Linked DNA regions of Homo sapiens. The protein of the gene in region 3 interacts with the protein of the main gene of each other region in a pairwise test. Each region holds a gene or a part of one and is shown on either strand. Other genes may lie near its edges. The genes, in order: TTC4, QDPR and RXFP4.

Region 1 (3,500 bases), about 100 Mb from region 3:
TTTGGGTTAAGTGTTATTTAAGCTTCACAGTGGCCTTCTGAAATAGGTTGTCTTGCTTCTGTTTTTTTGGATAATAGTTTCAGAGAGGTGAAGAAACCTTACACAGCTAACATGTGTTAGAGCCGGGTCCTTGCTCTTAACCACTGGGTTGTACAGCATCCTGAGAAAGTCTGACATTTTAGGATGTTGTTCCTATAACAACAACAACAATAACAAAATGCCACCCTGTCTTTCTCTTTTCTGTATTTTGAAATATATATAGTCTGACCCAAATCTTGCTTTAACCTTGATACCTAGGGAGTCACCTGTTTGAGATTGTTTGGTCTTAACAAAGGAGAGAATATCTGCTGGGAGATTATGGGATAGGTTTTTTTTTTTTTTGAGATGGAATGTCTCTCTGTCACCCAGGCTGGAGTGCAGTGGTGCAATCTCGGCTCACTGCAGCCTCCACTTCCTGGGTTCAAGCAATTCTGCTTCAGCCTCCCGAGTAGCTGGGACTACAGGTGCACACCACCATGCCCAGCTAATTTTTGTATTTTTAGTAGAGACGGGGTTTCACCATATTGGTCAGGCTGGTCTTGAACTCTTGACCTCAGGCGATCCACCTGCCTTGGCCTCCTATAGTGCTGGGATTATAGGCGTGAGCCACGGTGCCCAACCGGGGTAGGTTTTTTGTTTTATTATTTGTTCAGTTAAATTATGCACCATTTATGTTACTTGTTGACTGTAAGAAACTTAACACTGCTAAAACATACTCCACTATTCCCTCCCCACAACAATCTGTTTACATGTATTAACACGTTAAACAGATTAGAATACTCCAGATTTTCCATCTAATTCTCATTCACAGTGAGGGATTTGTTCGTTTTCTTAATTGTAGAATATGAGATGCCCAGACACCCAGACATTTGCATAAATCCTTTTTTTTTTTTTTTTTGGTTCTCTTCTTTAGTGTAACCCTTCATCTCAAACTTAGCATACATAAGAGTTACTCTCAACAGTACACGAAGCCATGCATGCTGTATTTTACTAATGGTTAAAGGGAGGAGTCAGCAAACTGCAGCCGTTGGAACACAGCCCTGCCTATTTGTTTATGTACTACTTATGGCTGTTTTCACACTACAGTGGCAGAGTTGAGTAGTTAATTTTGACAGAGACCATTGTCCAGAACTCTTAAAATATTTCATATCTAATGCTTTAAGAAAAAGTTTGCTAACCTCCAATTTAGGGGATATCATCAAATCTAATTTTGATTGCATGTCATTTCCCCTCATGTGCTAACCTTAGGCACCCCTGCACACTTACATAAGAGGTGACCCTACTATTTCAGACCCTTAATTTATGCCCATGTCTAGGAGACAGTCAAGATTAAGTCAATGCACACTCTTTCTAGTATTCCATGTCCCAACTAAACTGAAATATTTGACATTTCTTTTTTTTTTTTTTTATCTTTTCTGTCCTTTTGCACTTGCTGCTCGTTGGAGTGGAAGGCTCTTCCTCCCTTCTAAGTGCCCCTCCCTTCCAACTTCTCTGCTTTTCAAAGTCATTGTTCAAGGCCTAGCATATCTCAGTCACCTCCAGCCCCCAAGGCTGAATTAATTATTCCATCGTCTATGGTACTACAACTCCACTTCTTACCTTATATCATCATTATTTCCATAGCTGTCTCACCACTTGATATTGAGCAGAGGCTTGAGGGCAGGTAGCCATGTCTAGTTCTCTGTGACACAGGGTCCAGCACAAGATAGATGCCCAATGAAGGTGAGTTAAGTGGTACCTACTATGTGCCAGGCCTCAGGGATAATGAAGATGGATTGTGTGTAGAGCTGTCCCTCAGGGAGCTCCCATTGTTATGGTGTTTTTTTTTGTTTGTTTGTTTTTTGATGTATTAAAGTTAGTTGTCCATGTTCATTCAGGGTACAGATGAAGAAAATTAAATTAAAAATAAAGTTAGTCGTGCAGCCTGGGCAATATAGTGAAACTCCGTCTCTTCAAAAAATAAAAATAAATAAAAAATAAAAAAATTAGCCAGGCATTATGGTTTCTTTATTTCAGTAAAATGGGTTTGCATCCTCCCACACAATAAGATGTGCATTATGTGTGTGTGTTTCTGTCTTTAACCCAGGCTAGGAATATCAGGCTCTCAGAAGCTGCCTGTGAGGATGAAGATTCAGCCTCAGAAGGTCTAGGTGAGCTTTTCCTGGATGGACTCAGCACTGAGAACCCCCATGGAGCCAGGCTGAGTCTAGATGGCCAGGGCAGGCTGAGCTGGCCTGTGCTCTTTCTGTACCCAGAGTATGCCCAGTCGGACTTCATCTCTGCTTTTCATGAGGACTCCAGGTACTGACTTGCCCAGGAGCCCTCTGCTTTTGCTTGCATGCTGTCTCTGTTTTTGTGGCAGGAGGGACGAGTGGATTTTTGGTTGAGAAGGGAAGATAATGGTTTAGAGGGTTTCACACCATCTGGTTTGATAATAACCTCTCTATCCTGTAGCTGACTGAACCTTGACTAACTAGGTTTGCAACGACAGACAAAAGTCTCATCGTCATACTAACTGGGCTAGTACATGCAACACCACAGTATTGTGTTTGCCAAAGAGTGGTACACATCACTGGTGAAATAGGAAGTCATTTTAGGTAATACATGCATAGCAATTTAAGTGAATATTAATTAGAAAAAAAAATATAGAGGCTGGGCGCTGTGGCTTATGCCTGTAATCCCAGCACTTTGGGAGGCCGAGTCAGGCAGATTACTTGAGGCCAGGAGTTCGAGACCAGCCTGGCCAACATGGTGAAACCCAGTCTCTACTAAAAATACAAAAAATTAGCTGGGCATCTGTAATATCAGCTACTCAGGAGGCTGAGGCATGAGAATCACTTGAACCTGGGAGGTGGAGGGTGCAGTGAGCCGAGATCATGCCACTACACTCCAGCCTGGGTGACAAAGCAAGACTCTGTCTCAAAAAAAAAAAAAAATAAAAAAGAGATATATGTATGTCTTTGATAGATATGTATATATATCAGACTTAACTTGTGATTTCATAGGGTTAATGTGTAGAATGAGTCTAAGTGTAAGAGTGTAAGAAAAGTTTTTTTGTAATTTTTTTTTTTTTTTTGGAGACCAAGTCTCGCTCTGTTGCCCAGGCTGGAGTGCAGTGGCATGATTATGGTTCATCACAGCCTCCAGCCCCCAGGCTCAGGTGATCCTCCTGCCTCAGCCTCTCAAGTAGCTGGGACTACAGGTGAACATCACCACATCTGGGTAATTTTTTAATTCTTTGGTAGACACAGAGTCTCTCTATGTTGCCCAGGCTTGTCTTGAACTCCTGGGCTCGAATGTTCCTCCCACCTCGGCCTCCCAAAGTGCTGGGATTTACAGGCATGAGCCACTGCACCCTACCAGAAATGTTTTTAACCTTGAAGCTGTTTAAAGAAAATTATGTCAGCTGGGCATGGTGGCTCATGCCTGTAATCCCAACACTTTGGGAGGCCAAGACAGGA
Region 2 (3,728 bases), on a different chromosome or scaffold from region 3:
GACAGACTCGTTCACTGAGCAGGCTGACCAGGTAGTTTCAAAAAGGCCCCCAAACATTGTGAGGGGAACCCTGGGGAGAGGTGACCACTGGCTGTATGTTCTTCCTTTGGCTGTATGTTCTTCCTTTTATTTCTTTTTTTCCCCGAGACGGAGTCTTGCTCTGTCGCCCAGGCTGGAGTGCAGTGGCATGATCTCCGTTCACTGCAACCTTTGCCTCCTGGGTTGAAGCAATTCTCCTGCCTCAGCCTCCTGAGTAGCTGGGATTACAGGTGCCTGCCACCACCCCCAGCTAATTTTTTGTATTTTCAGTAGAGACGGGGTTTCACCATGTTGGCCAGGCTGATCTTGAACTCCTGACCTTGTGATCCGCCCGCCTTAGCCTCCCAAAGTGCTCGGATTACAGGCATGAGCCACCGCGCCTGGCCTGTTCTTCCTTTTTTTTAAAGCTGTTGTTTCTCTAACTAGGAAAGCCATTTGTGTTCATTGAGGAAAATTTGGAAAAAGTGAAAAATGATACAAAGATAAATTATATAATCATTTTGAGTTAGTTCACTGTTAACATTTTGGCCTATTGTCTTTTTCTATGCATATTGTATGTTACTCCTTTTACAAGTTTAGGTAATTTTGTATTTTATAGTTTATGGTAAGCTTTGTTTTTTTTTTTTTTTATACTTAAATAATTCTCCAGATTACTGAAAAAACCTCTTTGTAGATGTGTGATATTCCATTTTATGGAATGGCCACAATTTATTTAGTTTGTTTATTGTACATTTGAGTTTTTTGCAGGATTTTTGTTTTACTATTGTCAAGAATGTTGTGATGAACGTCTTTGTCTACATATCTGATTATTATTGTTTTTTGTTTTAAGAGAGTCTTGCTCTACTGTTGACACTGGAGTGCAGTGGCACAATCTCAGCTCACTGCCACCTCTGCCTCCCGGATTCAAACAATTCTTGTGCCTCAGTCTCCTGAGTAGCTGGGATTACAGGCATGCACCCCAATGCCCAGCTAACTTTTTTGTATTTTTAGTAGAGACAGGTTTTTGCCATGTTGGCCAGGCTGGTCTCGAACTTCTGACCTCAAGTTATCCACCCACCTTGGCCTCCCAAAGTAATGGGATTATAGGAATGAGCCACTGCACCTGGCCCACATATCTGATTATTTAGGATACATTCTAAAAAGTGGAGTTACCCAGTTCACAGCAGGAACACTAACAAAACAGGTTATTTTTAATTATAAAATGATATGCATATTATAAAACAAAAGTCCAACAAAACTACGTAAATATAGAAATAAACTGTGAAACTGTCCCTTTTCTCCCCATCATAGTATCATTTCCCAGAAGGATGCACTATTAACAGTTTGATGGATATCCTGGTATAAATATCTTAGATGCTCTAGGCTGGGTGCAGTGGCTGACACCTGTAATCCCAGCACTTTGGAAGGCTGAGATGGGCGGATCACGAGGTCAGGAGATCAAGACCATCCTGGCCAACATGGTGAAACCCCGTCTCTACTAAAAATACAAAAATTAGCTGAGCGTGGTGGTGCACGCCTGTAGTCCCAGCTACTCGGGAGGCTGAGGCAGGAGAATCACTTGAACCTGGGAGGCAGAGGTTGCAGTGAGCCAAGATTGTGCCACTGCACTCCATCCTGGGTGACAGAGTGAGACTCTGTCTCAAAACAAAAAAAAAAAAAAGAAAGAAAAATCTTTGATGCTCTTAAGCAGTGCTTAACTTTCTTGAGAAGCCCTTCTGGTGAGCTGCCTGGATGACTTTTGAGTCAGGTTCTCACTGTGTTGCCCAGGCTGGACTGGAACTCCTGGGCTCAAAGGATCCTTCTGCTTCATTCTCCCGAATAGCTGGGACTTCCTGAGTAGCCACTGTGCGCAGCTGACTCTGTGTTTAATGGTTTTTAGTGCTGTAGCCCACATTCCCAAGGATAACTTCACATCACTATGTGAAGCGCCTTATTTTCCCAACCACTCAGTGTGGCAGGCAGGCAGGCCATTTTACAGCTGTGAAGACAAGTTTGCGCGACTAAGTGACAAGGCCAACAAGCTACTCAGTGGTGGAGTCAGGATCATAGGTCTCCAGATACGAACTTTAATAAGTTCAGGTGCCACTTGGTCTGTACGTGGGTCTGCTTTTCATTTAGTTGCACTTTCCTTGGTAATCTCAATACTGATGTTTTATGATCCTTATCTGGTTTTTATAACAAATTTTTAAAATTTTAGAAGTGATGCATGTATGATATAGAAAATACAAATAAGCAAAAAGAAAAGGGAAATCATTTATAGTTCTACCATATAGTTAATCATTTATTTATATTTCCTTCCAGTCTGTCTCTCCAAAATATACATGTATAAATCTATACATTTTGAACATAAAACTGTGAGCACAACTCTGCTACTCATTTGCTCTTTCTAAAGTGTCAGTTTGACATAGATTGGAATGTAAAAGCCAGATGACTTATTTTAGCACTTCATTTTTGTTGTTCTTATTTTTCTCACTGTGGTCTCAATGTTCCCATACCTAAGTCATACAGATTGACCTTAGTGAATTTAATAGTGAAAGTTGACATGGCATCATTGTTAGTTGCCAGGCACCATTCTCAGTGCTTTATTTTCATTAACACGTGTAGTCTTCATTACATCCCCAAACAAAGCTTCTAATTTTATCCTCCTTTTAAATGGGGGTAACTGAGGCACAGAAAGGCCCTGGTATTTGTCCAAGGTCAAACAGATAAAAGGTTGCATAGCCACTATTTGGACATGGGCAGTGGGGGTCTGACGGCTGTTCTCTTAACTGCTATGCTAAGCTGCCTTAAAGCAAAATAGTTTCATGTGAATAAAGTAATAAAGGCCAAAATGGCTGGGTGCAGTGGCTCATGCCAGTAGTCCCAGCACTTCAGGAGGCTGAGGCAGGAGGATCACTTGAGCCCAGGAGTTTAAGACCAGCCTGTGCAACATGGCGAAACCCCATCTCTACAAAAAAATACAAAAATTAGCTGAATGTGGTGGCACACAACTGTAGTCCCAGCTACTCGGGAGGCTGAGGTGGGAGGGTGGCTTGAGGCTGGAAGGCAGAGGTTGCAATGAGCCGAGATCATGCCACTGCACTCCAATCTGGGCAACAGAGCCCAACCTTCTCTAAAAAACAAACAAAAAATAAAGTAATAAAAGCCAAAACTAAATGGAAGGGCGGTTCCTGGGCTTGGAGAGCAGCAGCCCTGCCAGGTGCGGGTCTCTGTAATTGGTGTCTCTTCAGTGTCTCTTCTGCTCTGATTAATTATAGGTTTCTAATGTCCCTGTAGATTGAATGTGGAGGTTGTCCCCACCCAAGGCTTGGCAGTAGAGTGCATCTCTAAGACAGAGATTGAGAGATGCGTTTGTGCTTATAAACTTTTCTTTGAAAATCTCTTCCTTCTTCTACTACTCCACCAAAGGAAGAGGAGTACCTTCTCCACCATACCCCCAACCTTAAGAATTTCTGAACAAACAGCATAACATTCAGTTTTGTCATGAAACTGGGGAAAGAGGTAATCAACTGAAATGTTCCTACTGGGAGAGACACAGGGTGTTGATTTAAGTCTTTTTTAAAAAAAACTAAATGTAGAGATGAGGTCTTGTTATGTTGCCCGGGCTGGTCTTGAACTCCTGGGCTCAAGTGATCCTTCTGCCTCTGCCTCCCAAAGTGCTGGGACTACTGGCATGAGCCACTGTGCCC
Region 3 (3,646 bases):
AGCAGCCATGAGGCCAGAAGGTAGCCTGTGGGGCTCACCTGACCTTGGGCTGGGCACTCCCCTTCTGCCACCCCCTTTATACTCATCCCTGGTTCGAAAGCCCCAACATGTTGGCACCCAGCCTGTATCACTCTCACCTCTGGGTTTCTCCTATGTGTTCACAAGCCCACTGCTGATTTATTGTCGCAAAGGGCCCCTCTCTTCCCTCAGCACTCCAAAGGAACTGAACATCGAACGTTATCTTAATTAGCTGGCAGAGGGCAAGAAGGGGCTGAATATATTGGAATCCTTGAGAAAGCCTTACTCTTTTACCTATCCACCTCCTGCCTTCTCTTTGTCCCCACCTCAGCTCCTTCTGCAGTAGGTAGAGATGTAGGCAATGAAAGGGGAGGGCCCAATGAAGCATTTTTTTTTTCCAGTTATGATTGAGATCATGGGGAGACAGGATGAGGTGTGGTGAGGGCGTATCTCAGGATCCTTAGCTCTGACATGGGGTTTGCAGGAGAGAGTAGGGGGACCGCTGAGCTCTGTCCACAGACTAGAGCAGGAAAGGGGGGAAAGGCGGCGATAGAGGTTAGCAGGAATGTTTAATTATCAGGAGCAGGAACAGAACTGAGGGCATGCCCAGGTCCACACAGGCCCTCATAGGCCCAGTGTTCCCAGTGGGGAGGAAACAGGAAGCTGTGACTTCCTCTCTCTTTTCCCTCCCTGCTCTTAGCCTCAAGGTCACTGCTGCTGAGATGAATTCCAACCTGTTTTAGTTGGCACTGTTCCCTGGGCATGGTAATAGCCTCTCAGTACCCTTCTGCCACAAACACCCCAAACTTCTCCTTTGAAATAATATTCATACAAATTGCTATTTCACATGTGTTCTCTCATTGCATCATGCCACTCCTGTGAAGCAGACTTACCTGAAAATTTTAAGCAAGAAAACAGGCTTAGGGGAGTAAAGTAACTCTCCCAGTCACACGGCTAGTGAGCAGCAGGTCTGGGACTCCGCAGCCTCCGCTCTTTCCTCTCTTGGACACCCATGCTGATTCCCTGCCTCTATGCCACCTCCCAGGCCCCTTGCTTTGGGCCCCAAGGGAACACTTTCTGCAGAGGAGGGAGGCCTCTGCACTGTTAGGAACAGAGGCAGCTCTAGTTTGGTTCCTGTCATCTCTGGGACAGGGAACCTCCAGCTCTCTCCCTGGGGTGGAGGCTTGGGGCTGCCCTCCATAGCGGGGTAACTCTCCCTTCTCCCCTCCCTCTCTGCCATTTAGAGCCCCTCTTACAGGCGGGCGCATGCACATATACCCTGGCATTCAGGCTGTGCCTCGCCCTGCCCCACCTACCACCAATCTTGACCAACAGGAAGGTGGTGGGTTGTCCTTTCCACACCCCTCCCTCTGAGGTGTGGGCGTGGGCCAGGGCTCACCAGAGGCCCCAGAGAAGCACTTAATTCTACAGCCTCCTTCCTAGAGCCTTCAGTGGCCTCTGCCAGTCTGGCAGACACTTGCAGACCTCTCTTCTCAGCACCACCAATCTCTGATGCCCTGCGATGCCCACACTCAATACTTCTGCCTCTCCACCCACATTCTTCTGGGCCAATGCCTCCGGAGGCAGTGTGCTGAGTGCTGATGATGCTCCGATGCCTGTCAAATTCCTAGCCCTGAGGCTCATGGTTGCCCTGGCCTATGGGCTTGTGGGGGCCATTGGCTTGCTGGGAAATTTGGCGGTGCTGTGGGTACTGAGTAACTGTGCCCGGAGAGCCCCTGGCCCACCTTCAGACACCTTCGTCTTCAACCTGGCTCTGGCGGACCTGGGACTGGCACTCACTCTCCCCTTTTGGGCAGCCGAGTCGGCACTGGACTTTCACTGGCCCTTCGGAGGTGCCCTCTGCAAGATGGTTCTGACGGCCACTGTCCTCAACGTCTATGCCAGCATCTTCCTCATCACAGCGCTGAGCGTTGCTCGCTACTGGGTGGTGGCCATGGCTGCGGGGCCAGGCACCCACCTCTCACTCTTCTGGGCCCGAATAGCCACCCTGGCAGTGTGGGCGGCGGCTGCCCTGGTGACGGTGCCCACAGCTGTCTTCGGGGTGGAGGGTGAGGTGTGTGGTGTGCGCCTTTGCCTGCTGCGTTTCCCCAGCAGGTACTGGCTGGGGGCCTACCAGCTGCAGAGGGTGGTGCTGGCTTTCATGGTGCCCTTGGGCGTCATCACCACCAGCTACCTGCTGCTGCTGGCCTTCCTGCAGCGGCGGCAACGGCGGCGGCAGGACAGCAGGGTCGTGGCCCGCTCTGTCCGCATCCTGGTGGCTTCCTTCTTCCTCTGCTGGTTTCCCAACCATGTGGTCACTCTCTGGGGTGTCCTGGTGAAGTTTGACCTGGTGCCCTGGAACAGTACTTTCTATACTATCCAGACGTATGTCTTCCCTGTCACTACTTGCTTGGCACACAGCAATAGCTGCCTCAACCCTGTGCTGTACTGTCTCCTGAGGCGGGAGCCCCGGCAGGCTCTGGCAGGCACCTTCAGGGATCTGCGGTTGAGGCTGTGGCCCCAGGGCGGAGGCTGGGTGCAACAGGTGGCCCTAAAGCAGGTAGGCAGGCGGTGGGTCGCAAGCAACCCCCGGGAGAGCCGCCCTTCTACCCTGCTCACCAACCTGGACAGAGGGACACCCGGGTGAAGGGCGCAAGCTGAACACACTCCTCTTTCTGAGATCCACCAAGTGTAGGATCCTTGAGTCCTGGGGAGAAGCTGCCCTCTCTGCCAGGCTGCAGTGCCCTCAGGGAAAAGTCTGATCTTTGATCCCCAACTCTGGGTGTGGTGAATGGGGGAGGCGGGGGCTCAGATCAGAGCTGGATGTGACAAAGCTTAAGTCTTTATTTGGAGATGGGAAAGAAGAGGATCTGAGAATAAACCTCTGGATTATCCACAAATTGTCTTGACCTTTTATCCCAGTTCCACCTCCAGTTCAGTATGGAACAAAAGGATTCGTTGCTCCATTTCTGCTTTCTGCAAGAATACCTAGGAAAACTTCCCTAAGGGTTCTAGGCTAATGAATCAGAGGTCAGTGCCCATCTCTCTCTGTACCCACCCCCCACCTCAAAACAGGGTATCCCTTGTCTTTCTCCGGTATCAAGGCCAAAAATGCCAGCTTCCCCTGTCCTCACCTTACCATCTCAGTGGTGACCACTGAAACTTGCTGCCTGCAGAGGCCTCAGCTGCAAAAGCTGTAGTTCCCTTGAAGGGATGCCAGGTGTGGGGTATTGCTGGAATTTCCAGCACCTGCCAGGCCCTGGGTGTAAAACCCTGGTGCTGACGGGAGTGCCTGTGTGTCTCCCTTTAAATCAGGATTTGAAAGAAGTGAAGATAATGACAAGTCAAAGACATGGGTGGGGTGAAGGGAGGTGAGCGATTAAAGAGGGGAGGGGGCTGGGAGAACAGGCTGCAGGTAGAGCCAGAAAAGCAGAGACCTCAGAAAGTGGTGCTAGTCCTCCCTGCCCCAAATGCAAAGCCCAGAGTATCAATTTGAGTGTCAGAGCACCTGGATTCACAGCTTTACCTCCAGCAAATTACTTTACCTCTTTGTACCTCACTGTTCTCAACTGTAAAATGGGCTACTAAAGATTTAACAGTGAAATATACTGTTAGCTATTATTCTTGT

Evidence for each region.
Region 1: the proteins of RXFP4 (region 3) and TTC4 interact in a two-hybrid assay, tested with the Homo sapiens proteins (one large-scale study listed by BioGRID and IntAct).
Region 2: the proteins of RXFP4 (region 3) and QDPR interact in a two-hybrid assay, tested with the Homo sapiens proteins (one large-scale study listed by BioGRID and IntAct).

What each region holds. Positions count from the first base shown.
Region 1 is NC_000001.11:54,729,361-54,732,860, forward strand, and holds part of TTC4 (tetratricopeptide repeat protein 4), read left to right. Parts: intron 1-2,125; coding exon 2,126-2,340; intron 2,341-3,500.
Region 2 is NC_000004.12:17,505,574-17,509,301, reverse strand, and holds part of QDPR (dihydropteridine reductase), read left to right. Parts: coding exon 1-31; intron 32-3,728. UniProt on the Homo sapiens protein: Catalyzes the conversion of quinonoid dihydrobiopterin into tetrahydrobiopterin.
Region 3 is NC_000001.11:155,940,170-155,943,815, forward strand, and holds RXFP4 (relaxin-3 receptor 2), read left to right. Parts: upstream 1-1,468; 5' UTR 1,469-1,540; coding exon 1,541-2,665; 3' UTR 2,666-2,918; downstream 2,919-3,646. UniProt on the Homo sapiens protein: High affinity receptor for INSL5. Also acts as a receptor for RLN3/relaxin-3, as well as bradykinin and kallidin. Binding of the ligand inhibit cAMP accumulation.